2 separate regions of the Homo sapiens genome follow, and region 2 is linked to region 1. A link means that fine-mapping ties the variant in region 1 to the expression of a gene that starts in the linked region. Tissue or cell type: sun-exposed skin. Region 1 holds a variant in brackets; the other region holds the start of a gene. All regions are shown on one strand. Distances are from middle to middle.

Evidence for each region. PIP is the estimated chance that this variant, and not a neighbour inherited with it, causes the effect.
Region 2: CCDC13-AS1 starts here. The variant in region 1 is the best candidate, but not a certain one, in a credible set for the expression of CCDC13-AS1 in sun-exposed skin (GTEx, PIP 0.81).

The regions. Positions count from the first base shown.
Region 1 is chr3:42,703,705-42,718,989 of GRCh38, reverse strand. It overlaps CCDC13 (coiled-coil domain containing 13), which reads left to right. Exons shown (of 16, transcript NM_144719.4): 14 at 5,674-5,828; 15 at 9,192-9,306; 16 at 9,851-13,234. The coding sequence ends at 10,010. It overlaps HHATL-AS1 (HHATL antisense RNA 1), which reads right to left. Exons shown (of 3, transcript NR_146957.1): 2 at 14,758-14,841; 3 at 12,225-12,943. Among named protein-coding and RNA genes, the nearest start is that of HHATL, 8.5 kb to the right of the region's middle. The variant T/CT (reference allele first, on the strand shown) is at 7,530.
Region 2 is chr3:42,723,105-42,738,389 of GRCh38, reverse strand. CCDC13-AS1 (CCDC13 antisense RNA 1) reads right to left here and starts at 5,815. Exons shown (of 4, transcript NR_046732.1): 1 at 5,732-5,815. CCDC13 (coiled-coil domain containing 13) reads left to right here. Exons shown (of 16, transcript NM_144719.4): 10 at 2,477-2,683; 11 at 4,781-4,920; 12 at 5,420-5,503; 13 at 7,801-7,923. RefSeq lists enhancers at 1,842-2,527, 3,900-4,583, 4,584-5,269, 5,799-6,093, 7,446-7,945 and a silencer at 5,799-6,093.

The sequences.
Region 1 (15,285 bases):
CCAAGGTCAGTCAAGCATCTTTGTTTTTTATTAAGAGGGGCCTCTGACCCACTTTGTCTTAGGAGAGATGCTAACTCCCCTAAGTTGGGCCTCTAACCCAATCCCATCCTTTACCTGGGTTTATGTACCCCACTTACCCAAAGTCATCCAATCAGTGCTGAAGTCTATTTCCTTTGGGTTGGGGGGTTCTCCTCAGTATCATCCCTTCTGTGGTTCACCAGAAAGATGTTACTGGATCCCACCACTTACCCAAAGTTAGCCTTTGGGTCAGGGGTTTCCTCACTATAGTCGCTTCCGTGGTCACCAGAAAGATGTTACAGGACCCCAACACTTATGCAAAGTTAACCTTTGAGTTGGGGGTTTCCTCACTTTAGTCCCTTCAGTGGCCACCAGAAAGATGTTACAGGAAAGGGTCCCGATCCAGACCCCAAGAGAGGGTTCTTGGATCTCATGCAAGAAAGAATTCAGGGCGAGTCCACAGCACAAAGCAAAAGCAAGTTTATTAAGAAAGTAAAGGAATAAAAGAATGGCTACTCCACAGACACAGCAGTCCCCAGGGCTGCTGGTTGCCCGTTTTTATGGTTATTTCTTGATGATGTGCTAAACAAGGGGTGGGTTATTTATGCCTCCCCTTTCTAGGCCATATAGGGTAACTTCCTGGCATTGCCGTGGCATCTGTAAACTGTCATGGCGCTGGTGGGAGTGTAGCAGTGAGGACATCCAGAGGTCACTTTCATCATCATCTTGGTTTTGGTGGGTTTGGACCACCTTTTTTACTGTAACCTGTTCTATCAGCAGGGTCTTTATGACCCTGTATCTTGTGCTGACCTCCTATCTCATCCTGTGACTTAGAATGCCTTAACCATCTGGGAATGCAGCAGTTGGTTTCAGCCTTATTTCACCCAGCTCCTATTTAAGATGGAGTTGCTCTTGTTCAAACGCCTCTGACAAAACCACTGTGCTTTGGAGAGAACAACATGGCGGTGGATGGTTGTGGTATTATGCAATAACAACACAAAATGGACGAAGACACATCGTTAGACCCAGCTGGGTAACATACCTGAACTCCAGAATAGGGAGAAAAATCTAGGAGCTGACAACCAACCAAGTCATTAGCCAGCAAGAAAATGGAGACCACAGTCCTAGAACTACAGGGGACTAACTTCTGCTAACAACCTGAGTGAGCTTGGAAAAGGATCCCATGCATCAGATGAGATAGCAACTCCTTCTGACACCTTGACTTCAGCCATGTAAGACACTGACAAATTAGCTAGGCCAACCTTGGACTTCTAACCTACAGAAACTGTGAAATAATAAATTTGTGTGGTATATGTATGTTTTAATTGTGGTAAGCTATATACACCAAACATTTGTCATTTTAACCATTAAAAGTATACAATTCAGTGGCACTGATTACATTAACAATACTGTGCAACCGTTATCTCTATTTCCAAACTTTTTCATAACCACAAACAGAAACTCTATTACTATTAAGCAATAGCTCCTCATACGCCACCCACTAAGCCCAGCATCTAGTAACCTCTTTACTTATTTTTTTTTTTTTTGAGATGGATTCTCGCTTGTTGCCGAGTCTTGAGTGCAATGGCATGATCTCGGCTCACTGCAACCTCTGCCTCCCGGATTCAAGCAATTCTTCTGTCTCAGCCTCCCAAATAGTTGGGACTACAAGCACCCACCACCATGCCCAGCTAATTTTTGTATTTTTAGTAGAGATGGGGTTTCGCCATGTTGGCCAGGCTGGTCTTGAACTCCTGACCTCTGGTGATCCACCCGCTTCAGCCTCCCAAAGTGTCGGGATTACATGCATGAGCCACCATGCCCAGCCAGTAACCTCTTTTCTATGAATTTGCCTATTCTAGATATTTTGTATAAGTGGAGTCATGCAATATTTACCCTTTCGTGTCTGGCTTATTTTACTTGGCACAGTGTTTCCAAGGTTCATCCGTATGGTAGCATATGTCAGAACTTCATTCCTTTTTATGACTGAATAATATTTTATTGTGTGCATGTACCACATTTTGTCAATCTATTCATCTGTTGATGGACACTTGGATTGTTTCCACCTTTTTGGCTATTGTGAATAATGCTACAAGAACATTGCTGTACAAGTACCTGTTTGAGTCCCCGTTTTCAATTTGAGAAGTGGAATTGTTTGATCATAGGGTAATTTTATGGTTAGCTTTTTAAGGAGCCACCAAACTTTTCCACAATGGCTGCACCACTTTATAGTCCCACCAGCAGTGTACAAGGGTTCTAATTTTTCTATATCCTCACCAACACTTATTTTCCTTTTTTTCAATAATAGCCATCCTAGTAGGTTTGAAGTGATATCTCTTTGTGGTTTGGATTTGCATTTCCCTAATGGCTAATGATGTTGAGCATCTATTTATGTGCTTATTGGACATTTGTATATTTTCTTTGGAGAAACACAAGTCTTTTGCCTACTTTTTAATTGGGTTGTTTGTCCTGTTGTTGAGTTGTAGTAGCTCTTTATGTTTTTTGGAAATTTTTTATTGTTTCAAGCCACTATTTGTGGTAACTTGTTATGCAGCAGTACTAATACATTTACCCTATTATTAACTGGGAAATCAAGTTTTTTGTAAACTTATAGGAAGCCATCTATTTCTTCTATATTGTGGAATTGTCAGAATAGCAAAAATCATTGGTTCCTTGGAGGTTAGATAGAACTTTCTTGAGAACCTGGCTTGACCTGATTTTTTTTTTTTTGGAGGTAGATCTTTGACAACCTTTTTTCAAATTTAGATTTTCTGTGTCTTCTTGAAGTAATATTAGTACATCTTGTTTACTTACAGAATTAAACATAATAATGCTTATGCAGTGCCTTAACACAGTAGTTGGTATGTGGAAAGCACTCAAAAAAAGTATTAGCTGTGCTGTTGTTATAAGATTTTTCTCCTTGTCCTGGAGTTCAGGTATGTTACCCAGCTGGGTCCAAGGATGTGTCTTAGTCCATTTTGTGTTGCTATAACAGAATACCACAGACTGAGTAATTTATAAAGAAAAGAAATTTATTTCTCACAGCTCTGGTGGCTGGGAAGTCCAATATCAAGGTGCCAGCGTCTGACAAGGGCCTTCTTGCCGCATCCCGTGGTGGAAGGCAGAAGGGAAATGGCATGGGGAAAGTTGAAGTGGGGACAAAGTTATCCTTTATCAGAAACCCACTCTCATGATAACTAACACACTCCACTACTGACCAGTGGAACTTTCTGTGATGATGGAGTTGTTCAGTATCTGCACTGACCAATACAGTTTAAGAACTTGAAATGTCACTAGTGTGACTGAGGAAATGAATTTTTAATTTAATTTTCATAAACTTTATTTTTTTTTCTTTTTGTTACAACAGAGCCTCGCTCTGTTGCCCAGGCCAGAGTGCAGTGGTGCGATCTCGGCTCACTGCAACCTCTGCCTCCCAGGCTCAAGTGGTCCTCCTACCTCAGCCTTCCAAGTAACTGGGACTACAAGCACACGCCACCGTGCCAGGCTTATTTTTGTATTTTTTGTTGTAGATATGGGGTTTTACCATGTTGTCTAGACTGGTCTTGAACTCCTGGACTCAAGTGATCCACCCACCTATGCCTCCCAAAGCACAGGCGTGAGCCATCGTGCGTGGCCTGAAATTTAATTTTTTTTTTTTTTTTGAGACAGAGTTTCGCTCCTGTTGCCCAGGCTGGAGTACAATGGCACAATCTCAGCTCACTGTAACCTCCACCTCCCTGGTTCAAGTGATTCTCCTGCCTCAGCCTCCCAAATAGCCGGGATTACAGGAGCATGCCACCACACCTAGCTAATTTTTTTTTTTTTTTTTGTATTTTTAGTAGAGACGAGGTTTCACCATGTTGGCCAGGCTGGTCTGGTCTCAGACTTCTGACCTCAGGTGATCCACCCACCTCGGCCACCCAAAGTGCTGGGATTACAGGTGTGGGACCCCGGGCCCAGCCCCTGAACTTTAATTTTAATGGCTACATGTGGACATGAACCTCGCAGTCACTGTGTTGGGCAGCACAGCTCTATCATATTCTATCACGTTCTATAGTATGAATATGTTACCACTTACTTGTTTGTCCCCTGATGATGGGCCTTTAGGTTGTTTTGGGTTTTTGCTTTTGCAAATAAAATCTCAAGGAATATGCTTAAATATGTGTTAGTAGCTGTTTACTGTGTTACTATACAGCTTTTTATTAGTAGTTGTATACTGTTCAAAATTGTTGTCATTCTGTTCCTTTTGACCCTTCACCAAGGTGGAAAGATCACTTCCTCCAACACTGTCAGTTTCAAGGCTGCCCCTCTAATTTTCAGGTGTGCATGTAACTCTTGGCTTGGGTTAGATCTCAGGGAGTTCTGGCTTTCTCACTAAATGAACCTTTAGTATCATAGAAGTCTGAAATGGCACACCTAGCCACAGGAAGGACCTAAGCTCAAGCTCCAGTGGGATTAAACAAGTGCTTCATGTGAAATAACATTTATGACAGGCATGTAGAAAACAAAACAATAAGCTTAAGATAATCACTAACTCCAAGAAAAGCGAACAATTAAATGAGAAAGGACATATGACACTGTGCGTCATGGCTCTAACTAATTGTCCTAACGTAGACAGGCTTTTGGTGTCTATGCCCTTTGCTCCCTGCTGTTATGCCTGTGAGTGCTTTATGTTACATGAAAAAGAGATTTTGCAGATATGATTATTGTTATGGACCCTAAAATGGAAAGATTATCCTGGATTATCTGGTGGGCTCAATGTAATCTTTTGAGCCCTTAAAAGCAGAGAAATATCTCCGTCTGGGATTATTCAGAGAGTTGCTGTGGAGGAAGTCAGAGAGGGTAGTGAGATTCAAAGTGTGTTAAGGGTATCTAGCTGGCTTTAAAGATGGAGGGGGCAAGGTGGCTCCTAGAAGGTGAAATTGACCAGCAGCCTGCAGGGAACAGGGACCTCAGTCCTTCAACTACCTGGAACTGGATTCTGTCAACACTCTGAATGGGCCTGAAAGTGGATTTTCCCCCGGAACCTCCAGATAAGAGCCCAGGTCAGCCAACCCCTTGATTTCGGCTTGTGAAACCAGAAGCAGAGAAACCCACTGAGCTTGCCAGGCCTCTGACTTACAGAACTGTGAGATAATAGATTTGTGTTGTTTTAAGCTGCTAAATTTATGGTAATTTGTTATAGCTGTGATAGAAAACTGATACCTAATATCAATTCATCCAAAAACGTATACAGGTGATTCTGTTTCGTAGGAGGAGAGTACTAAAATAAAACTAAATTCTTATTTTGCATGACAGGAAGTCAAAAGATTATATTTAAACCTTATATAAACCTAAAAATAGCAACATAAGCATCTGTAGAAATATGGCAGTAAATATTAAAAGAAACAGCTAGAAGTGTTATAAGTGATTGCTTTTAGAGAGCAGGAATTGGGAATGATGGGGCTGGGAGTGGGCTGATAATTTTTAAATTTTAACCTTGGAGAGAACCATATGGTGTTTAAATGCATGTTCCTGTGTTACTGCAATGAAAATGAAGAGGTCCCATCACTACCAATGTAAGATGTGCCCATCTCTCTAAGGGCCTGAGCAAGTGGGGTAGGGCCTGCCCCTGCCTGCCAGGGCATGTAGCATCCCCTCCTCTCTAATCACCAGGGTGGAGGAGAGCAACAGCAAGCTCCTGGAGTCAGAGAGGAAGCTGCAGGAGGAGCGACACCGCACCGTGGTGCTGGAGCAACATCTGGAGAAGATACGCCTGGAGCCAGGGAAGGCATCAGCCTCCCAGAGAGCAGCTCCCAGGACCAAAACAGGTAGGGGCCAGGGCAGTAGTCTCAGTGCAGGGGGTGGAGGCAGTGTTGCTGCTAACAGAGGAGCCAGGCAGCTGCACTGTTCAGCCCATCAGTGAGCATGTGGGAAGCAGAGCTTCCATCAGGGTGGAGCTCTGCCTGCCTCCACTGTGGGGTGTTCTTTTCCCCAGGCCTCTCAGTCAGAAGCAGGAGCCCCAGAGCTCCATTGCCTCGTGTGGCCCTGGCCTGGCCACCTGTAAGCCCTCAGCATGAGGTGGCAGTGCTGAATGCCCCCAGCCACCCTAGCCCTCAACCCTCTATCCTAAGCTGACTTCATTCAAAGTGGTCATGGGGCACAGCTGGTCTGCTGGGGAAGCCCAAGCAACAGTGGCTGAAGCAGGGGAGGAGTCCCTTTGTGCCTCCTGCAATGGTCAAGTTGATATAAGCAGGAAGTAGCCTCACCAGAGGTTTGGGGACCCAAGCTCCCTCTGTTTTGTGGCTCCACTGTTCTCAACATGCAGCTTCCATCTTCTGGTCTACAATGACTGCCTGAGCTTTCCCATCAGCAGCAGGAAGGGGAGAAGGGAAGGAGACAAACTTCTCCTTACCTTTTACGGTTGCATATGTCACTTCTGCTCTCATCCCATCAGCCAGACAGTTGGGCATAGCCAGGTGCAGAGGGAAGCTGGGAAATGCTATCCTTAACTGAAAAGTCTATCGCTCGAACACAGTGGTTCTCAAGGTGCAGTATTCAGATGAGCAGCATCAGCATCCTGTGGGGCTGGGGCGAGCTGGAGGATGCCAGAGCCAGAAGCCATTTCTGGGATGGCTGACTCCCAGGGAGGAAGGGTCTCCAATGTGGAGGGGCTGGGCCTGCCTCTGTCTGACCTCCCATCCCACCCATCCCAGCCCCCTCCAGGCTGGAATGCTGGAGGTGCTGCTGCCCCCACTGCACCCTCTTTCAACACCCCAGTAGCCCCCCAACCCCTCCCCAGCCAAGGATGGTCAGACCCTTGGTCTCAGTCCTCAGCCCAGATGAGGTCAGAACGTTTCAGAAGGGTGTGCCAGAAGTAGGGCATAAAGAGGGTGTTGGGGCCACTTGCTTTCTCTTCTCCCACCAGCAGGGCCAGGAGCTTCTGAGAATCCAGGCCGGGAAGGAAGGGTCTCTGGGGCTTAGCCTTGCTGACCCTCTTGGACTCTCAGGAATATGTTCCCTAGGAGTGTGGCTTCTCCAGGCTGGGGCTTACCTCCTGTAGGGCAGCAGGACTTCCAACCAGGGAGAGCTAAGCCACAGCAGGCAAGTCACTTTGTTCCCTGCTGGACAGTGAGGGCAGCTGCCTGAGGGAAAGTGTCCAGGTGGCCTCTGCTGCCTACTGGCTTTTAACATGGGCAAAATCCTGCCCCTCTGGTGAGCAGAGCACCACTTACCCGCCTCCCCCTGGCCCATCCGTAAAATGAGGAGGCTAGATTTATAATTCAGTCCCCCATGGCAGTCTCACTCCAGTAGGGGAGCTAGACATCTGAGCAGAGATGGAGGAACTGGGAGGGGATGTGGCCTGCCGATCCCTGAGGGAAAGACAAGTGTCGGTGCTTGGAAGCTTAGCTGGATGCTTGGAGGAACAGGGAGGAGGCAGGGAGGCTGGAGTGGTCCAATCACACAGGGCCTTGAGAGCCAAATAGAATTCACTGAGGCTGCCAAAGCTCTAGAGGCATAAACTATTATCC[T/CT]TTTTTTCAGCTAAGGAAACCAGCTCAGAGAGGCTGATAGTTTGCCTGAGGCCTCTCAGCAGAGGGCGAAAGCCAGGTCTTCTGATACCAAGTAATTTACTGTGGGTCACACCACCTCTGAGGGCCTTTTCAGTCCCGAGGTTTTCTGATGCTGTGATTTTGCCCAAGTTCGCCACCACCAGTTGAGCTTTGTCTTTTTTTTTTTTTTTTTTTTGGAGACAGAGTCTCACTCTGTCCCTCAGGCTGGAATGCAGCGGTGCGATCTCAGCTCACTGCAACCTCCACCTCCCTGGTTCAAGCAATTCCCCTGCCTCAGCCTCCCAAGTAGCTAGGATTACAGGGGTTCGCCACCACACCCTGCTAATTTATGTATTTTTAGTAATGATGGTGTTTTACCATGTTGGCCGGGCTGGTCTTGAACTCCTGACCTCAAATTATCCACCCCCCTAGACCTCCCAAAGTGCTGGGATTATAGGCATGAGCCACCGCACCCGGCTGAGGCTCTTTTTGATTCCCTGTGTCACAGGGCTTAGAAAATTCCATCAGGCTGAACAAGCAGTTTCCCATCCAGGGCAGCTCTAGTTGGGGATGTGGAGGTGCTCAATGCGTGGAATAAGCCAAGGGCAGCTTAGCAGTGTCCCCTGGAGCCAGGAAAGGCCCTGAAGAACACTCAGTCCAGCCCCTGTAGAGGGCAGAGCCACTCTGCTGCCTCCCCAGCAATGAGACAGGTTTACACAAGACTAGTCTTGAGGTGCATGCCTCCATGCCTGGCTAATTTTTATGTATTTTTAGTAGAGACAGGGTTTCACCGTGTTGGCCAGACTGGTCTTGAACTCCTGACCTCAAGCAATCTGCCCCCACTTGGCCTCCCAAAGTTCTGGGACCACCCCACCGTGGGCCACTTTGTCTCCTTTTTGTGAACATTCTGTACCCTTCAACTCCAGGACCCTGGATCCCCTGCTTCCTAGTATGAAGCTGATGGCCTGGATGGGGACCACTGGTATGAGGGCATCAGGTACAGTGACAGTCTAGACTCGGGCTCAGCCTGCAGGCCAGACCTCAGGCTCAGCTGGTTTCTCTTTTTGAAAACAAATTACCAGGCTGGGCATGGTGGTTTACGCCTGTAATCCTGGCACTTTGGGAGGCCTAGCCAACATGATAAAACCCTGTCTCTGCAAAAAATACAATAATTAGCTGGGCATGGTGACAGGCACCTGTTGTCCCAGCTACTCGGGAGGCACAAGAATCGCTTGAACCCTGGAGGCGCAGATTGCTGTGAGCTGAGATCACGCTACTGCACTCCAGTCTGGGTGACAGAGCAAGACTCTGTCTCAAAAAAAAAAAAAAGAAAAAAAAAAGAAAACAAATTACCAGAAACTTGTAAAGTATAAAGATGGAGACAGGGTGGTGAGGAACCACCCTGGTACAAAGCGAGCAGAGTCAGGGCTGTAGCAGAGGCCAAAGCCAGGGGCAGAGGCATGCAGAGGAGGCATCAGGGAGGGCTTCGGAGGGAGGCAGAGCTCAGAGTTGCCCTGCACCCCGAAGGCGGTGTAGCGTTTCACCATGTGGAAGAGCAGGCAGTGGGCAATGGCGGGAGGAGAAGCAGGGTGCTAGCACAGGGCTGTGGCCTCCTCACAGAAAGTGGTTGCTGCTGCCCCACAGGTCTGCCCACCTCTAACAACAGGCACAACCCAACCGGGAGCGAGAAGAAGGACCCATCCTTTGCCCAGCTCTCCGATGTGCCCGTGGAATCCCAAATGGAAGAGCTGACAACCAGGTGCTCCCCTGCCCCGCCTTCCTGAAAGGGTAGGGTTGTCTGAGCAGAGGTGCCTCCATGGGCAGAGGGACTGTGTCCCTCCCCTTGCACTTTTGACTCATTTGCCCAGAAGGCTTGTCCTGTTTGGTCCTGGGTTCTAGGCCTGCAATTCAGGGACTGGCCTTCAGAGGACAGAGGGCCCGGCCCAAACCCCAATGACCCATAGTCCAAGAGAAATTTTATCAAGCATGGATCACTGAACCAGTTTCTCACTACGTTAAACCTTTTAAGACCCCACGCAGCCATGGGAAGGGAAAGACGGGAACCTCTACAAATTGGAACTCAATTTGTAAGGGGCCTTGAGGTAGCTTACATTGCAGGGAGCCAGGCCCATAGAGAGGAATCCATGGTACCCACAAGAGTCAGTGAGAGGAGGGGATGGGTCAGAGGGAAGCCTGAGCCTGAAGAGCAGCCATGCTGGCAACCACATTCCCAGGGCCCTCTGTCACCCACGCACACCTGTGTGCAGCTCCAGCCACACTGAGCACTGTCTCCTGTGGTCCAGGCTGGCCATCCAGGTGGAGGAGAATGAAATGCTAAAGGCTGCCCTGGGCAGTGCCCTGCGGGGAAAGGAGGAGGACTTCCGGATGTACCATGAGATCCTGGGCCAGGTGAAAAGTGTCTTCCTGCAGGCCCTGCGGCAGCAGAAGACAGGCAAGCAATAGGATGACAGCCCAGTGTCGGCCTGGCCGGGTGGGCAGCCTCAGGTCTTGAGAGGATAAGACTCTGTCTGAGGACTCCATCTGCTCCGGGAAGCCAGCCCAGGGCAGCCAGCTCAACCACTTCTACCAGAAGAGGCTCCTTAAGGATGACCAAAACCAATGTCTCAGGCCAGGAAGGCAGAAGAGAAGCCCTGGTGGGACACTGCAGGAGACCCTGGGCTGGCTGGGTTACAGCAGCAGGGAGGCCCAGCAGCCCACTGGCAGAGGCGAGAGCTCTGGGATGGCAAGGCGGCTGTGAATGGACAGATGCAGTCCCTCGGGCAGGTGTTCATCGCCCTCATCCTAGGTACTAGCCCTGGATGTCCCCATGGCTTCACACACAGAAGAGCCCTTGGTTACCCTAAGTGGGCATATCCCCCATGCCACTCAGCCCTGCCCTATCCCCTCACCCCCATCCCGGCTCCATCTGTAGCCGTCCACACCCTACACAGACTTGGGGCACTATGCTCTCAACCAGTTTGTCAGCCCACTCCTCAGGACACTTCCTCAGGTGCAGACCCTTGGACTTGTAATAATAATAAGTATTTTCATAATCACTGCAGCTCCCAGTGAGTGAGCATCTACTGTGGCAACCTGACCCCATTCAGTCCTCTAATGACCCAGGGGTTTGTTGTCTTATTTGACAGATGAAGAAACTGAGGTTCACAGAAAGAAGCTGAGCTAATATTTAACTGCAGTCTGCCTGACCCCAAAACCAGGGTCTTGCCGTTCAGAGATTACCCAGGGTAGGCGCACCCACCCACCACTGAACAACCCCACCCCTAGGCAGCAGCTCCAAGAGGCATCTTTGTTTGCTCACCAAGACTGCTGATGGATGCTGGTGGCAGAGGGCCGAGGTGGGGCTCAGCTGGAGCTTCAGGCAGAAGGGTTTTGAGGTAGTGGCTCCAGTCAAAGGTACAGTGCACCTCCCTCGCCATGGTGAACTTGGAGGGATGCTGCAGGGGCACCCTAAGATCCGCAGGCCTCTATGACTGTCAGTGTTGCCCTTTCTCAGCTGTAACTATGCACTTATAGCTACAGGAAGGAGTGGCCCCAAGGAGGGTCACTCATAGCCACACACCCCAACTCCGACACCCTGGCCACACAGGTGCACCCACAGCCCCACACAAAGATGCAGATGCACACACATACCTCAATTCAGGAGCATGCAACTGTACGTGCACACAGGCACCTCCATGTGTGCACACTCATGGACACACAGGTGCAGATGAGCACACACATGTGGATGTGGACACACATTCCCACACGTGAAGACATAGCCACTTGTGTGTTGCTTGTGCAGTGATGCACAAATGCAGGTGCACATACTGTGAAAACACCCCCTTCCCCAGGAAAAGCCACTGGGGCTCCTGCGAGCATCTTGTCAGCTCCTTCCTTGGAAAAGCCACTGCGGCTCCTGGGACCCTGTCTTCTCAGCCCCTTCCTTGGGGATGGGGCTATGGAGGGACCCTAGCTGGCCCCCACTCCTCAGGGAGCCCCTGACCCTGCATGGGGTCACACGGATCTAGAGATCCCACAGCAAGTTAGAGCAAAGGCCACCGGGATGAACTGATGATTCTGGTGGGGTCCTAAGGGTCTCTGGGAAGGAAGAGTTTTTCTCTGGTTCCTTGTGAAGGAAAACGGCCAGGCAGAGAGCCAGGAGAGAGAGGGTCTGTGCTTGGAGGGGACAGTGTGTGACAGCGAGGGGTGGGCTGGATGTAGAGTCTGAACACAGAGGAGTCAGCACCTTCTCCTGCAGGCCCTGAGGAGCTCCAGAGGGTGATCTGAGTATGAGGGGTACAGGCTCTGGCCTCAGTGCAGTCCCAGGGAGTGAGAAGCAGGCATAGGATCAGCCATCCTTCCTCAAGATCACCTCAGGGAAGTGCAGAGATGGTGTGACCCACACTCCAGCCACTTCAGGGTGGTTCTGCTGCCCTTCCTGGGCTATGCCTGAGAAAGGAAGGAGCATTAGGTCATGGAGTCTGGACAGGTGGGGCTGCCTGGGGCATACTTCTCTCCCCACTTACCAGCTGTGTGGCCTTGGGCAAGTTATTTAACCTCTCTGATCCTCCACATTCTCATCTATAAAATGCAGACAATAATAGAATCCTCCCTCAGGGGGCTGTTATTAATATGTATGTCAAAGAATAACCCAAAGACGTTTCACTAATTATTAGCTCTCTGTTTATTTCTGTACAAGGAACATGTATCTATAGACTGATTTCAACAAGAGTTATATAAGAGAGAGGGGAAAGAAAAACTGCAGACAGGCAGGCACAGGAAATCTTGTTTGCACATTTTTGGGTAAACTGATTTGCTGGTGTCTTGCTTTGGCCAACTCTGTATATAAAGATGAGTGTTTCAGCTTTCAGATTCCACGGGCAACCTTGACAGCATTGCTGTGGTGCCATGTGCGGGAGTGCCTGTCATGTCTGCTGGCACCTACCACCGGGCACCTCCCCACCCCTAGCTTGGTTAGATCAGGTCTGCTCCATTCCCTCATTGGAACCCTCTGCAGGGTTCACTGAGATAAAGTGTCCATTGCTTACAGCAGCTGCTCGCACACAGTAAGCGCTTAATAATTATTCGCTCTTAGTGTTCCCTCCATTTGTTCAACCAGAACTTGTTGAGCAGTTCCTCTGCCCCAGGCACAGAGGTGCCGAGGTGAGGCAAACACAGTCCCTGGCCTCCAGGAACTCTCAGATCAGCTGAGGAGAGAGACAGACTGGTCACAGGTCACCATTCCATCCAGCCAGTCGGCCACCAGGCAGTCAGTGAGTGCCAACAGCATGCCAGCCTCTCCAGGCCTGGGAGGGACCTAGAGGTGAATCTGACTTGCTTCCTCCTTTCAGGGAGTTTCCAGTCCAATCAGAGGTGTGGGAAACGCCATGATGGAGCTGGGTGGGGAAGGATGCAGGACCGGGCTGCAGCACCACAGGGCTTCCCCCACCATCCCCACCCCATCCCTGTGGCAGTTCCCAAGTTCCCAACCTCCTTGATCAGATCTGGGTAGAGAGGGGGCTTCACATCTCCCTGAGGCAAAGGAGCAAGGAGGAGTAAAGGGAAGGTGGGGAGAGCCTGGGAGAAGGATTTTCAAGGGAAGGAGGTCATCAAAGGGGTCAAAGATAGGGACCCTGAGAAACCTAACTTAGGTGGGCCAGGTGCACAGCCAGGCAGCTGGTCTGTCCAGGTTAGTACCAGTGCCTCTCCTGGGTAGCACCATCTGTCCTGGGCACCCTGAGGATGACCTCCCTGTCCCTCAGGCAGGTGGGCAACAGGTGTGCTGGATAAGACACCAAGGGCCCTGGCCAGATCCACGAGGAGGTAGTTGGAGGGGAGGGTGCAGGTGCCCTGGCGGGTTGAGGGGCAGGGGCAAGTAAAGAGTTAAGTGGTGAAGTTGCCTCAAGTGAGGGCTCTCCCTGCCACACCCCAGGCAGGTGCTGCAGGTCTTGGTGCTCAGGTTCCAGCACTGACAGGTGAGACCTGGCTGAGCTGTGGACGTAGTTTGGCCACTGTCCCCACAGGGGCCTCTGGGGCACCACAGCTGAGCTGGGCAAGGTTGCAGCCTGGCTCAGGCTTAAACACACTACATTGTCACTGGGCCCCTCCCCTGCTCCCAGGAGCCCAGGGCAGGGTGACCTCCAGTGGGTGTGCTCCTCTGCACCCCCACACCCAGGGGCCAGAACAAGCTTCTCCTCCCCACCCCCAGCCAGCCCACAGCCAGCCCTGAGCACAAAGAAGTCGGCCTGCCCACCTTCTCCCCACAGGTGTGCCTTTACGTACACTGACTCTCCTATATCTGTGAGCCTTGCACACACACAACACACATATACACACGTATGTACGATACATGTGCACACACAATACACAGGATACACATACACAGCAAACACATGCCATGAACAACCTACAACACAAAACGTACACACAGACCCACACACAACTGATACAAAACACAGTTGCACACGTACATGCAAACACACAGGATACTTTCCTCGCATTTTTACTTTGAGCAACAACCAAACAAAAAAAGTCTGAAAATTGAAAAGGGACTCAGATTTGAGAGAATTGTCCCCACTCCCCACCATATCTTTCCTAGTGGCCCTTGTGGCATTTGGGAAGCTGGCCCCAGGGCCAAGTGCTGGTCTTAGCTCAGTCAGCTTCCTGTCCCTCACGTGGGCTGGCCTTGCCAGGTGCCCTCCCCTGCCACCCCCCTCAGACACAGTGGAGCTGGCCTCAGGCTGTCCAACCACAGATCCATGGGACTTCCCTAGCCCTCCACCCCTCTTGCCATTTCCGCACACCACACTCCCTGCAGACCCTGCTGTGTGTGGGTCACCCAGGGAAGGCCTCACTTCTGAGTGTGAATCCAGCCTTTCTGGGCCTCTGGGGGTCAGGGTGTCTGTGGCTCTCTAATAGCCTCTGTTTATGAGCAAGGCTCTTGTCATGGAGTGAATCACCGGATGCCCCCTGCCACCCCAGTGAGGGCCAGGGCCAGCGGTATGCCCATTTTACAACTGAGGATCTGAGGCCCTAAGAAGTGGGTCACACCAGCTCAGGGTCAAGTAAATTGGCTGAACCTGTGTTCTTAACTCTGGGGTCAAACCACCCTGTCTGCTCCCTTGAGCCATTTTCTTGGAGCCTCGTGAGGGCCCCAGTGTGGGTGCACGGGGTTGTCGCCCCTGCAGGGCAGTCAGTGCCAGGAGCTTACAGGGCTGATCCAACTACTTGGCTTCCTCATGTGCCAGGTCCTTCTTCTCCCAACTGCGTACAGTGGCAACATCTTCCCTATGGGCTGTGGTGACATTAAAAAGTTAATCCATGTACATCCTGGCTACTATGATTAACTTACTCCTAACAACCTTTGACTACCCCTCCCTGAGGAAGCCCTCCTTAACCCTGAAGTCTGGCTCAGGTATCCTTCCCTTCCTGATGCTGGCCTCTCTAGTGCCCATTACCCACCACAGCTCTAACCCAGCACCCACACTGTGCAGTAGTCACCATTCATGCTTCTCAGGGTCGGGGACCACAGACACGGGCCTCTGTGTCCTGTGTGGAGTGTGTAGGTTGGGCGTCTCCTTGCTGTTCTCCAGGCCAGCGTGTCTATGTGCTCGGGAGGCAGCTCCCTGCCTAAGTGCAGTCTCTCCCCTTCCTGGGCCCTGATGGGTGGGGAGCAGCACCTCCCTCCTGCCTCCTCAACTGAGCCTGAAGCTGGGGTCATAGGATCAGCAGGGGCTCC
Region 2 (15,285 bases), 19 kb before region 1:
ATTGCCAAGACAATCCTAAGCAAAAAGAACAAAGCTGGAGGGATCATAGTACCTGACTTCAAACTATACTACAAGGCTACAGTAACCAAAACAGCATGGTACTGGTACCAAAACAGATATATAGACCAATGGAACAGAACAGAGGCCTCAGAAATAACACCACACATCTACAACCATCTGATCTTTGACAAACCTGACAAAAACAAGAAATGGGGGAAGGATTCCCTATTTAATAAGTGGTGCTGGGAAAACTGGCTAGCCATATGTAGAAAGCTGAAACTGGATCCCTTCCTTACACCTTATACAAAAATTAATTCAAGATGGATTAAAGATTTAAATGTTAGACCTAAGACCATAAAAACCCTAGAAGAAAAGCTAGGAAATACCATTCAGGACATAGGCATGGGCAAGGACTTCATGACTAAAACACCAAAAGCAATGGCAGCAAAAGCCAAAATAGACAAATGGGATCTAATTAAACTAAAGAGCTTCTGCATGGCAAAAGAAACTACCATCAGAGTGAACAGGCAACCTAAAGAATGGGATAAAATTTTTGCAATCTACCCATCTGACAAAGGGCTAATATCCAGAATCTACAAAGAACTCAAACAAATTTACAAGAAAAAAACAACCCCATCAAAAAGTGGGCGAAGGATATGAACAGACGCTTCTCAAAAGAAGACATCTGTGCAGCCAACAGACACTTGAAAAAATGCTCATCATCACTGGCCATCAGAGAAATGCAAATCAAAACCACAATGAGATACCATCTCACACCAGTTAGAAGGGCAATCATTAAAAAGTCAGGAAACAACAGGTGCTGGAGAGGATGTGGAGAAATAGGAATGCTTTTACACTGTTGGTGGGACTGTGAATTAGTTCAACCATTGTGGAAGACAGTGTGGCGATTCCTCAAGGATCTAGAACTAGAAATACCATTTGATCCAGCAATCCCATTACTGGGTATATACCCAAAGGATTATAAATCATGCTACTATAAAGACGCATGCACACGTATGTTTACTGCGGCACTATCCACAATAGCAAAGACTTGGAACCAACCCAAATGTCCATCAGTAATAGACTGGATTAAGAAAATGTGGCACATGTACACCATGGAATAATATGCAGCCATAAAAAAGGATGAGTTCATGTCCTTTGCAGGGATATGGATGAAGCTGGAAACCATCATTCTCAGCAAACTATCACAAGGACAGAAAACCAAACACCGCATGTTCTCACTCATAGGTGGGAATTGAACAATGAGATCACTTGGACACAGGGCGGGGAACATCACACACCAGGGCCTGTCGGTGGGTGGGGGGCTGGGGGAGGGATAGCATTAGGAGAAATACCTAATGTAAATGATGAGTTGATGGGTGCAGCAAACCAACATGGCATATGTATACCTATGTATCAAACCTGCACGTTGTGCACATGTACCCTACAACTTATGTATAAAACAACAACAACAACAAAAACAAAAACTTCCTTGATTAGTAAGGCCATACTGCTTTCCTAACCCTACAGCTTGGACTTTTCTCTGTGGGACCCGAGGCACCAAAGTTTGGTGTCAGATTCCAAGTTGTGCCTGCAGGCCCGGGGCGGGTGATCATGTCTGGCTTGGCTGGGGTGTTTGGGGGGTGCTGGCTCAGGCACCTACCTTAGTTCATGATCACTTTACATGATAGGGTGGTGAGCGGGGCACAGAAGACCAGAAATCTAGGCCTGCCTCTGTCAGTATCTCACTGTGTGACCATAGGCCAGTCGCATCCCCTCTGAGGCTCAGCAGCCAGTTTTAAAAATAAGTCGCAGGGCTGGATGTCCTCTGAGGTCCCTGCATGTCACCATTCTTTGTCATTGAAAGTGGCATGATGAGAGCTGCAAACTAGTCCCAGTCATGCTATTCACCAGCAATATGCCCTTGGACTCTCTGGGCCTCAGTTTCCTCCACTCTGAGGTGAAGACAACAGCCCCCACCTGTTCCAAATCACTGACATTGTCCTTTCTGTTGGCCCTAGGCAGGAAGCCTTTGCCCAGGAGTCTCCTTGAGGGCTTTTCCTTGGGATGAGGCTTCAGTCAGGTGCTAATGGATCCCTGGCAGGGGTCCAGGTACTGCCTCCAAGGGCAGTCTCCCAGCCAAGCAGGATCAGGCTTTTCTTTTAGCTAAATATCTCCCCCACCGGGTGAGGAGTCACCATCTGATCTACTTTCTGTTGTCTGAGAGCCCCTTGGATCTTCTTGGCCCCAAACTCAGAGAAGGAAGTTGAGGACAGGAAAAGAACATGGTCCCCACCTGCCTGATTCAACATCCCCTGATGGCAGGCAAGGAAGGTGTTCCTGCCTCTCGAGGGAACAGGATCCCACTGTTAGGTTCCTGCAGCCTGCTTTGGGGTGAGGGAGGCAGTCTGTTCTTGTCCTCCCCGGCCCAAAGGGCCATGACTGACTCCACCTGCCCTCCTGCCTGGCCCCCCAGGACCAGCTGAAGCAGCTACAGGAGATCCTAGGCAGCCTGAGTCTGCAGGAGGAGAAAACGCGAGTGTCCCAGCACCACCTGGACCAGCAACTGAACAGCGAGGCTCAGCGGAGCAACAGCCTAGTCGCCCAGCTGCAGGCCATGGTAGCTGAGCGGGAGGCCAAAGTGCGACAGCTGGAGATGGAGATCGGACAACTCAATGTGCACGTGAGTAGGGCACTGGCAGCGCCCAAACCCATTTTCAAGCCGGGCAAGTCCATCCAGCTCCTTCCACTTCTTTCCACTTGCCTTAGCTCAGGCCAGACTTCATCCTTCCTGGCTCCACTTTGGCCACCTGCTTCTATCTGGCTCCCCAACCCATTCTGCACACAAACCTGATTGTGTCCTTGCTCTACTTAAAATCTGTTCATGGCTTACTGTCACCCTCGACCTCACCTGGTTCTCAAGGACCCAGGCACCTTCCAGTTTACCCTCTCCCATCCCCAGCTGTGGCCTTATCCTCAGGATTCAAGATGGTGGCAGTAGCTCCAGCAGCAGGATGAGAGAAGGAAAGCCACACTTCATTCAGCTTCTAGGCACCATGTGACTAACTCTTGCTGCCACCCCTCCTGCATCTTCTCTTCACCCCTCCCCTTTCCCTACACTCTGCTACCCAGGCACCATTCAGCTCCTGCTTGCTCCGCACTCCAGGGCTACGCGCAGCGTGAAGCACACTCCCTCCCCTCCTCCCCCACGGCCTCGGTCTGGCCGGCTGCCCCTCAGCCTTTAGGTCTTACCTAGTCAGGAGCTCCTCCAGGAAGCCCCAGGACCCCTGTTCTGTGTTGTGTTCCCCTCCTAGGCACTCTCCTAACTCCCTATGCATCCCCAAACCAAACTTCTCTCACGCTGTGTAGTCATTTTCCTGTTTTCTCCCCTGCACTCTCTGTAAGGGAGCACAGACCGTGGTGCCTCAGTGCCTGGCACTGGAGCAAGCACACAGTAGATGCTCAATAAATGCTTGTCTAAGGCATGAGCTTGTAAAGATATTTTGTCTTGGCAGGTGCCTTGAGGGCACAGCTTGGGGCTGCTAGGAGTCAGGCACCTTCACCTCCCTGGGGTGGTGGTGGGGCTGGGTGGTGTCCTTGGGGAGAATTTCTTGACAGGCATGCAGGTCTCCCAGTGACAAAGGAGCCTTGCAGCCTCTGGCCCACTGGGAAATTGACTGGCTCAGCCAAAGGCATGTTGCAAAGCAGCCCTGCTCTTTGTTTCTGGGGATCCGTGGTTTGTTCAGAGGTGAGAGCCCAAGAGCCCCTCGGCCCTGCCTCAGTCTGGCATTGGCTGACCAGCCTGGTTTGTCCTGTAGCCTCTATTCCCACAGGCCAGGGTAGCCTGGGGCCCCAGGACTGGCTGTGACATAGTGCTGTGAGGCTGAAGGGGAGCCTGGGGGCACAAGGAAGTCTGGGAACAGAGCACATACGGCAGTGAATGGGGACTCACCCTGCTCCCCATCCTGGCTCACTGGGGAGGGAAGTCTGAAGGGGAAGATTCCAGCATCTTCACCTCACCACTGTCCTTTCTCCAGGCACACAGGAGAAGACTGTTCCTACCTCCGAGGTCACCAGCTGAATGGGGGCCAAGCATTACCCACCAGACTTAAGTCGGCACACGTTTCGAGTTTTCTCAAAATGGGTGGGGCTGGGGGACAAGCCAGGTTGTTAGGGGCTTACACCGGTTGTCCACTCTGGTGGCCTGACCTCCTGCTGGGGGTCCTCTAATGTTCCTGTCCAGTCCAGCCCCAGCAGGTATCCAGAAGAGGAAGGGGTTGAGGGAGGGGTGGGGGCCTGGCAGGCTTAGCCTCCACCCAAGGCTGCCTGCCCTCACTGAGTCCCTGCCAGCCTCTCTGGCTGCAGGTGTCTGGAAGGTCCAGGTGTTCCAGCTGAGGAAGGCAGCTGGCCTCAAGTCACACCTGGTGTTCAACCACATGTGGGTGGGGCCGCCTGGAGAAGCGGACCCACTCAGAGACGTCAGTCTCTGACCTGCCCCGCATGCAGGGCCGTGCACCTCCCTCTGGAACCTGAATGTAGAACAGCTTCCTGGCCCAGTCACCGTCCTCACACCATGTAGCTTTCTTTCTGAAGAGAGGCATTATTAGATGTCATTATCATGCAAGTAGTGCCTTCACCAAACAGGCCTCGCTTTTCACTCCTGAAAAGAAGCCTCTTTCATATCCTCTGAAAGCCCCGAAATCAAGCCAAGATCCCCTCCTGCCTTCTCTAGGCCTCTGAGCCAAAGCCCTGAGGATGGAACCCACATCTGTTCCTACAGTATCTTCGGAATAAAGGAGTGGGTGAGGGGTCCAGTGGCCGCGAGGTCAGCCCTGCCTATACCCAGTTCCTGGAGGACCCAGGCCTGACCAAGTCCCCGGCCTCAGCAGGCGATCATGTTGGCAGGCTTGGATCTTCTCGGTAAGAAAACAATGGGAGGGAGGGGTTGGAAAGTGAACATTAATTATTCGGAAGAAAGGTTGTTTCTTGCTACCTCTGATGGGAAGCCACAGGTGCAATTTTAAGATGACTATGCTGTTGTTCTTCCAATACGTGGGCCTCTCCTATGACATTAGCTCTGCGTCTGCAGAAATGAGCCGGTTAGGCCCAGATTTTATCACTTCAAGAGCATGCTGGTTGCAGCTCTCTGTAAGAGCCTTTCTGAGCTGGCCTCAAAAGTTTTCTGCCCCTGGGGCCTTCAAACAGACCCGTGTTGGGTTGTTCAAGGCTCTGGTGTCTCCTGTTCTGTCTCATTTTGAGCAAACAAGAGTTCTGGAAAGAAGGGCAGCAAATCCACAGGACTGCTGCAAGGGTTTCCTGGACCCCTGCTGGCCACTGCTCCACCTCACATGCAGAGGTGAGGCCCAGTAGGGCCTGGTCTGCCTTCCCAGGCTGATGGGCCCCTTCCGCCTTTACACAGCTCTGTGACCAGCCTGGGCCACACACTGGTGGAATCTGCTCTCACGAGGCCTTCCCTGCCCAGTCCCCACAGGACCTCACCTAGGTATGGACCCCCGACCCCCGGACTCTCACAGTTTTTTCCCATTCTTGATTGCTCAACCAGTATTGCCATCCCATTAAAAGGAGGGGAAACTGAGGCCAGGCAAAGTCCAGGGACTCTTCCAAGGTTACATAAAGACAGGGAGGATCAGGGAAGTCCTGTCCAAGATGATAGAGTAAGCAGCTTCAGAACTAGAATCTTGGCCTCTGACTCCCAGGCTAGGGTTCCTACCTGCTACGTGAGAATTAACCTGAGGAACCTTCCTGGGCCTGGCTTCTAGCACCTTCCCTCATCTTCTCTTGCTCATTGAGAATCAGCCTCTAAGGGGAGAATTTCACATGATATGGGTTCCCACTGATATCCCCTCAGACCTTGGGCCCCCTCTTTGTTGACAGAATCAAGCCAGAGGGTGTAAATGGGCCCTTTGTTCCTACTGCCAGCCCATAGACAAAGGACAGCGTTGTCCTGCCTCTAAGCCCTGTCCCGAGCCCTGCCCACTGTCCACTGGAGCCATGCTCCTGCTGTCAACACTCCCCACCCTGACCCCTCAGGCAGGTCAGCTCAGGTTCCAGGCAAAGCCTCCAAGTGGCCCCAGTCCCTCATCTCTGTGGCTCCAGGCAAACTGGTCCTTCTCTGGGCTGCTATCCCCGAAAAGTGGGGGACAGCATGCTGCTGACACTTGGCAGCATAGGGTCTGTGGGCCAAAGCTGCCCCACCCATCAGGCTGGGGTCATAAAGGCACTTGGGGAGAGTGGGCTGACACTGAGCCACAAGGCATGTGCCACGCTCCTTAGGGTGGGAGGTCTTGTCACAGCACAGGGAGATTGGGGAGGCTCTGCCTCTCTGAGGTTTTAGTCACAGTAAAGAGAGCAGGAAGATGGACAAGATGACCCCTTCGAGCCCCTTCCAGGCCTGTGTGGCTGTGACCTCTGTGCCACACAGAAATACAGGAGCTGCTCTGTGCCTTGGCTGCCCAGACTGCTGGTTGTCAGGCTTGTTTCTTCCACAACACACAAATACTTACTAAACTCGACCATGTGTGGGCCCTACCCTCATGGAGCTTACAGTCCCCTCCCACAGGTGACAGGACAGGAATTCACAGGGCAGAGTGATCCCAGAGAGTATGTCTATTCGGGCTGGCATGGTTTGAACCCATTCCCTTCAGGTGACTCTGGTGGGGTGCCTGGGAGGAGGGCAGAGTGAAGAATCGGCCCTTTGCTCCTGCTCCTCCTCTTCCCACATTCTAGAACTGGGGAAATGAATGGGGCTTTCCAAACTGCAGTGCACACACAGAGCCCCTGCTGATCAGCCAGGTCAAGTGTGGGTTCTGATTCAGCAGGTCTGGGGTAAAGCCTGGGATTCTGCATTTCTAACAAGCTGCTAGGAGATGCCAGAGCCACCGATTCAGAGACCACTTGTAGTAGCAAGGCCTTAGAGCATATTTAGGAGTCACAGAGGGGTCTGCAGTTCTCGGAGCCCATCTAAACCACCCCTCTCAATGTTTAGTGGGGGAACTGGGGCCAAGAGAGAGGAAGAGACCTGCCCAAGACCACCGAGAAGTCAGCCCTCAGGATCACATGCCCCAGCCCAGTTTTCAGTACACTGCCCAGCTCTGCAGCCTTCCCTATGCCCTGTACTGCTAGAAAAGTAAGCTCAGGGTCTCACTGGGAAAAGTGGGGGCACAGCGGAGAGCAGCTTGGAACTCACATGTGGGCTCTGGGGGGTTGAAGTTGGGGGGCAGAGTTTACCTTCTGTCCTGGCTCCAGCCAGCAGGTAAGAGGGAAGCAGTGATGGGTTGGCTTAGGGCTGGAGAAAATTGAACAAGTCACAAAGCCAAATGCACAGGCTCCAGGAAAGTGGGCTGGGCTTGGGGACCAAGCCAGAAGATGCAGGAGGGCTGGGAGAGACTGGCAGGGACACAGAGACTGGGCACACCTGACACTGGGTAGGGCAGCCAGGCCCCAAAGGCCACACAGATACCCAGGGCACCCCAGGTCCCCAAGAGCCACCTGCCACAGCACCAGACTAATTCCAGGCCCCCACAGGGCTTGGATGGACAGAGGTACCAGTGTAACTCTAGTTCTGGTAGGTTCAGCTTTGGAGCCTAGGGACTTCAGCAGGACCAGGAATGGTGGGCAAAGAAGCCAGCAGGGGAGGACCTAGAGGGACTGGGTTTGCTTCCTTTGCTCTGGCTGACATTCGCCCTGAATGTCCTTCTAGTCCCTCCAACCATCACAGGGGTAAGTGTTATTTCTAGGCCTCGGATGACCTCTGCCCTCTGCCCTCCACCCTGGTCCCAGGTTCTCGGACTCCCCAGAACAAAAAGGCTGGCAGGCACAAGTGTCAGAGATCAAGGCCCTCTGGCAGGCTGCCGAGGTGGAGCGTGACCGGCTCACCGAGTTTGTCACTGTCCTGCAGAAACGGTAACACATGGCACCCAGGGATCTCTCCCATAGGCCTGCATGTGGTGGGGACTGGGGCCAGGCCTCATTTATGACTGGGTCCTCCTCACCTGAGAGCTCGGCTCCCAGTGTTGGTCCAGGGCATTCCTAGCCACAACTCATGCGCCCCACAACCTTGGGGCCTTGTCGTCACACTGTGTTTTGCCCTTAGGAACAGCCCCATTCTACATGCACCCAATGGGACTGTTGTATGGCATGTGGACATTGCTGGGAGTCTCGGGGGAGAGACACCCAGAAGTAAATCAGTCAAATCAATCCATCAATAATTAAAATCTGTGATGAGCCTGGCACTGTGCTTGGTGCTGCTGGAGGGTTTGGTGGGAAGAAAACACAAGCTAGACTGACATCTGGAATTGGAAAGAACAAGAGAGGTGCTGATAGCTGGGGAGGCAGGGAGGGAAGCACGAGGCCTGAGGCACTGGACCAGGAGGTATGGTTTTCTCTAAAGGGTTGTTGACAGACTTCCGTTCAGATAAATCAGTGCTCCTCGCTCAAATGATCCTTTTGGCAAGAATTGCAGGTGTCCAGGCCAACACATGGCTCAACCATGTGACCTCCACACTGAAAAATATTAAGCACACCACTGAGTTTCTGCCCTAACAGGCTATATCATGTATCAGTCAAGGCTCTTTGATGACAGACAATAGAAAGCAATTCTGGCTGAATTCAGTGAAAGGCAGATTTTTGGAAGGTACTGGCAGACTCCAATGCAGAGAGCAGGAGAGGAGCCTGAGAAGGTGCAGGCATCTTTGGTAGCAGGAAACCCTAGGCAGTTCCCTGGGCCACTGAAATGGCATGGCCAAATGGCTTTTAGCTCTTGTGCCCATGGGTTCTGGGAGAGAAGGTTGAACTGGCCAGTGCTGCGCCCGTATCCACCCCACATGTGAGGGCACTCTGACTGAAGTTCCTCCGGGTGCTCACAGAATGCAGGAAAGGTAGTTTGCCAAAGGGAAAATGGGGGTACTGATAGCAAAAGAAGGAGCTAGGGGTGCAGGGAAGGACAAAACAAAGGATGCCTGCTACCTAAATAGTGAGTGGTCAGCTTTGCTTTCACATAGTACATAGAGATGATGTGAATTTCAGACATACTCAAGTATATGAGAAAAGCAACATTGATTCTTTTTCTATAATTGGAATGTAATGGATAGTACAAGTCTTTAGTCTATCAAGTAGTAGAAACATACTCAATGCAGGCTTTCTCTCTCATTTCTCTTGAGTTACATCCGAGTTTGGGGGTGTGTGAAAAAGGTGACTCAGTTAGCTATTGCTGCATAACAAACCATCCCAAACCTAGTGGCTTCAAACACAATGGTTTGTGCTTTCTCACGATTCTGTGGCTTGGCTGGGTAATTCTACCCCACATAATGTCAGCTGGGGTCACTCACTGGTCTCATGCAGCTGGCACTTCAGCAGGGATGCCTCAGTTCTCCTTCATGTGGCTTCTGTCTCCATGTGAGATCTCATTTTCAGGGCCTCTCCACACAGGGCTAGGATTGGGTGAGGCAAGCAGGGCACCTGGGGTATGAAATGTAAAGAGGTGCTCACACCCAGTCACATACATGCAACTCTCTGTCTGCGAATATGCTGGCCCTTTTTGGGTCCTTGGGTTCCTCCTGCTACTCTGTGTCATCCTGGGGTGTTGGGGCTCTGTGAGGCTGTGCCAGGCCCATCAACCAACACCTGTTGCCTTTTTTCCTTGAGGTTATTGCTAAGTCCCTGGGCTGTAACAAGAAAAGGGAACCCAGGTACCTTCTGCACTCAAATTCCCTCAAATCTATTTGGTTTAAAACTAAATGTTTTAAACTAAAACCATTTTGTTATAACTAAATTGGCCAATCATCAAAAATGATGATTCCTTTCAAAACTGATGATTGGCCAATTAAACCAAAGGAACTATTTTAAAGTAAAACTAAACGTTTTAACTAATGTTTTAACTATCCCAAAGTACAGGACCTTCGTTTCTCAGAGATCCTCAATATCTACTCCTTTCTTTATCTGCAGAGTCTGTCCCAGCCTTGCACAGGGGAGGGTGGGGGGGAGTCTTTCTCTGCCTAGCTTCCCTTCTCCTCTACTCTGCCCTACAATTTCCAGCTGCCTCAGTTGCCCTCCCCCACCCAGTTCCCTAATCCTGTGTGCTCATCCCAGCATCCCAGGGTGCTCTGCGTGGCTGCCCCCACCCCACCCTGCAGTGGAAAGTGCCTCAGGCAGAAAGCCAAGGCCAAGGGCGAGCCAAGCTCAAGTCCTTCCTTTCCTCAAGTCTTGTATCCAGTGTGTGTCGTCCTGTTGTCCATTGTCTGAAAACAAGTTCTTTCTTACATTTTATCAATTTTTCTAGTTACTTACAATAGGAGTTGGTTAGTCCACCATGACAAAAGTCACTAAATATGTCTCTTTTTTAAAAAGCACGTAGTCGGCTTTGTTCTTAAATTTAATCTGGGAATTTCTGTGTTTGAACAGTATCGTTTAATCCACTTTGATTTTGGTAATATTTAATCACTTTAATTAATATTTTCTATTTGCCATGATTTTTCTTTGTTCCTTTTTTTCTCCTTTCTTCCCTTATATTGGACTGATCAAGTTTTATTTCTCTTACTTCTTTGCAAGTTTGGAAGTTAGATATTCTATCTCTGTTCTTTTAGTGGTCACCCTTAACTTTTAACATCAAACTCAGCAATCTAAAGTTAGTTGGTTTTGCTACTATCACTTTAAGCAAAAGAATACATTTAGAATGTTTTAACTTTGATTTCTCCGTTTGTGCCTTTCATGTTACTGTTTCCTAATATTTCTCTTCCACATTCTTTTTTTAAACCCTGAAATTAAACCCTCCAAAGTAAGTCTTGAATACTGAATAGTGAATATTCGTTTCCTTTTGCCAACATGTTTGAAAATGTCTTCACTCACTGTTACTTCTTGTATCTCAATCTTCCTTCTAGGTTCACTTTCCTTCTTACTGAGATGCCCTTTAGTTCAGTGAGGCCATGTAAATAGTAAACTCTCTGAGTATTTGTTTATTTTTATTTTATTTATTTATTTATTTATTTTTCTTTTCTTTTTTTGAGACCGAGTCTCTCTCTGTCACCCAGGCTGGCGTGCAGTGGCATGATCTCAGCTTACTGCAACCTCCGCCTCCCAGGTTCAAGTGGTTCTAGTGCCTCAGCCTCCCGAGTAGCTGGGACTACAGGTGTGAGCCACTACGCCCAGCTAATTTTTGTATTTTTAGTAGAGATGGGGTTTCACCATGTTGGCCAGGCTGATTTCGAACTCCTGACCTCAGGTGATCTGCCTGCCTCAGCCTCCCAAAGTGCTGGGAGTAAGGGCATGAGCCACCACGCCTGGCCTGTTTATTTTTAAATGTCTTTATTTTGCCTGTCTTGAATGAGAATTTAAGAGAAATTTGGGCATAGAATTCTAAATAGATGGGTATTTTTTTCTCAGCACTTTCAGGCTATCCTATTGTTTTTTATCATCTACTATTGCTAAAAAGAAATCTGCTATCAGTTTTATTGTCATTCCTTAATAGATTTGTCCTTTCTCTCCGATGCTTCTTCAGATTATTCTCTTTGTCTTTGAAGCTTTGAAATTTCACTGTGATACGTATATACATATACGTATACACACACACATATGTATATATGTAATATGCCCATATATGTATATATGTATATATGTGTGACTTTACATATATGTAAATATATATTTTATATATACATGTAAATATGTGTGTATATTTGTATGTATGTATATGTAAAGTATACATATGTAAATATATGTAAATATGTTATACGTAATTTTATCTACTCAGAAGTTAGTGTTCTTTTTCAATCCAAGGACTTTATATATTCCCAAGGACTGCTGTCCATATATTGCCTCTTCCTCACTCTCCCTATTCTTTTAATCTAAAATTCCTAGTCCATATATGTTAGACTTATTCTTTCCTCCACATCTCTTTACCCTTACTATTTTGGGCTGAATTCTGGGTGATTTCTTCAAATCAGCTTTCTAGATCACTAAATATCTTCAGTTGTGCTTCATCTACCATGAAACCTATTTTGATAACTGTATTTTTCGGTAAAAGCTCCTGTTCTCAGCCAGGCACAGTGGCTCATGCCTGTAATCCCAGCACTTTGGGAGGCCGAGGTGGGTGAATCACCTGAGGTCAGGAATTCAAGACCACCCTGGCCAACGTGGTGAAACCCCATCTCTACTAAGAATCCAAAAATTAGCCAGGTGTGGTGGCAGGCACCTGTAATCCCAGCAACTTGGGAGGCTGAAGCAGAATTGCTTGAACCTGGGAGGCGGAGGTTGCAGTGAGCCAAGATCACGCCACTCCACTCCAGCCTGGGCAAAAAGAGCAAAACACCCCCGTCTCAAAAACAAAACAACAACAACAAAACCCTCTTGTTCTCTTTCTTATAGCATTTGTTCTTTCATTACAATTTTTGCCTTTCTCCTTTAAATAATTTTGAACTTATTCCCTTTAGAGTTTTCTACCATCTTCATTAATTAGGATCCTAAGTAATGTCTGTCGGCTCTCCCCTTGTAGTAAATTATTTCCTTGTGTGGTTTCAATTTTTGTGATTTTATGAGCTTATCTTCAGTGGGGCTTTTTTCCTTGTAGGAGTTCTTAGGTGATGACCGTGTTTCTGTGGAGGTGTTCTGCATTTGTCTCTGTGAAGCTTTTAGGGTTTCAGTGGTCTCTGATTGGTACTTTATGTGAATTTATTGGCTTAGATTCCCTGAACACATGAATGCTGCCCTTGTGTTTCAGTTTCACATGATTGGTGCTTCCTCCCCTCCTCCCCATTTCCCAAGGCCCTGATAGACTGCAGGCTTCCTTACTACTTTCCTGAACTTGTAGATGGATATTATCTTAGTCCTCTTTTTTTTTTTTTTTGAGACAGGGTCTCACTCTGTCACCCAGGCTGGAGTGCAGTGGTGTGATCACAGCTCACTGCAGCCTCAACTTCCCGGGCTCCAGTGATCCTCCCACCTCAGCCTCTGGAGTAGCTGGGACCACAGGCACATGCCAACATGCCTGGCTAATTTTTATATTTTTATAGACTTACATTAAATGCATCTTTACATTTTTATGGGAGTATATCTGTATCACAAATTCCTAAAAAAGAAATGGCTGAATCAAAGAATATGCACATTTAAAATGTTCACAAATCATGACAAATTGCCTTTTAAAATGAATCAATTTACATTCTTACCAATAATGTGAACTGTTTTCCCCATACCCTCACAGTTACTATGTTTTATTAATCTTTAACATTTTTGCCAAACTAACAAGGAAATGCTAATATCTCCTTGTTTTTATCTGCTTTGCTATGACCAAAAGTGAGGATAAGTATATTTTCCACATAACTTTTATGTTTTTTTCTTTTAACTACCTATTCATGCCATTGCACATGTTTTAGAGTTGTTTATATTTTTATTTGACTTATAAAAGAACACTTTATGTATCATATATATGGTATTATGTATATAATGTGTAATATTATGTATGTTTGTCTTCATGAAGATTTTGTGTCATTATGCTAAATTCATTCTTAGCATTCTTAGGTAGGGGGAAACCTCCTTATCTGAGTATTTTTTACCAGCACCCCCACAGTTACAGTCCCCATGAAAGCAAAATTTTTAATATTAAAACAGTCATCATTTGACTATTTAATATTCTTCACTTCACATTGGCATTGGGTCACTTTGGTCAGACTCTTGAAATACAATGAAAATCAATTATGAAGCAAAAAGGTAAATCTTTCAAAATATTTGGAATTTCATGAGATTGATGAACATGAGTTTGGAGAACTATTAGAATCGCAATCAAATACATTGACAAATTAGGATCTAGCTGAGTTAGGCCTGTTAACAACTGAAGAAAATCAGTGAGACCAGAGATTGGTCAAAAGAGAATAATCAGAATACCAAAGTGTGCAAGAGGTCTTGAAGCTTACGGACATCTGTAGATCCCAGGCAGGAGGAGCAGCCTCAGGTCTGGAGAGGGGGCGAGGACAGAGAAAGAGCTGGTTTTGGTGCATATTTGCAGGAAAAGTTGTAGAGCCTGCTGATAGATTGGAAGCTGAAGATGAGGAAGAAAGAGAAGGCAAGGGTGACCCCCGGGTATCTGGGCTGAGCAACTGCATGAGTGAGGATAATATTTATTGAGATGTGGAAGGCACGTTATAGGGGAGAAGGAGAGAAATCAAGAGTTTGCTTATTCCTAAAATTTTGTGGGAATTCACAATGTGGTTTGCTATTTTATATGATGTTTTGCTGTTGGTTTATTATTTCCCCTATTATAAATGGAGTTAAACAAAATGCATACATTATTGAAATTCATAACAGAAAAGTGAAAGCCCCTCCCCCACAGTTGAGTCAATAGCTGCCACATATTCCTTTTTGTTTTCAGTCAAGTGGCTGAATTATATTAACCTTATATTTATTTGTTTTTAAATTTTTAATTTGTTGTAAATTTTTTAATTAGATCATATAGTATGCATAATCTTCTGCTACTTATTTTACTTAGTATATTGCATTTTCATGTCAGTACGTTTTCCTTTTATGGTTACAGAATATTTTATTGTATAAATCCACTGTTATTTATTTACCATTCTTCTATTGATGGGTTATTAGTTTCTGATTTTAAAATACTTTATTGTGTTGTTTCCTTCTATTCTCATTTTACTTTGAGTTTTTAAAGTCAGGAATAGCTACTGATTTTACCAGTGCTTCTTCAGTATCTATTGGAAGGATTACCTGATTTTTTCCTTTAACCTAATTCCGATGTTGAATCTTACAGCTCTAGTGTTCTTGGAACTATGTTGTGTTACTCTCTTACAATGCCATTGAATTTAATGTTCTTTCTTTTTTCCTCTATTTTTACTGTGGTAGGCAGAATTCTAACATTCCCACCCCCGATATACATGCCTTATAAACTTCTCTTCCCTTGAGCGTGGGCAGAACCTGTGAATATGGTAGGATATTATTGCCACAATTATGTTAACTTACATGGCCAAGGGGATTTTGCAGAGCTATTTAAGGTTACTCATCAGATGACTTTGTGTTAATCAAACAGGAGGCTCTCTGAGTGGGCCTGACCTAATCATATGAGTCCTTTTAGTCTGAGTCTAGCTGTCAGAGACAGAGGAAGCCAGAGTGGAAGCAGTATTTTCTTGCTGGCCTTGAAGACATTCTCCTGCAAACTGTTACAGGAAAGGGAGTTTTGATCCAGACCCCAAGAGAGGGTTCTTGGATCTCCTGCAAGAAAGAATTCAGGCGGAGTCCACAGTGCAAAGTAAACGCAAGTTTATTAAGAAAGTA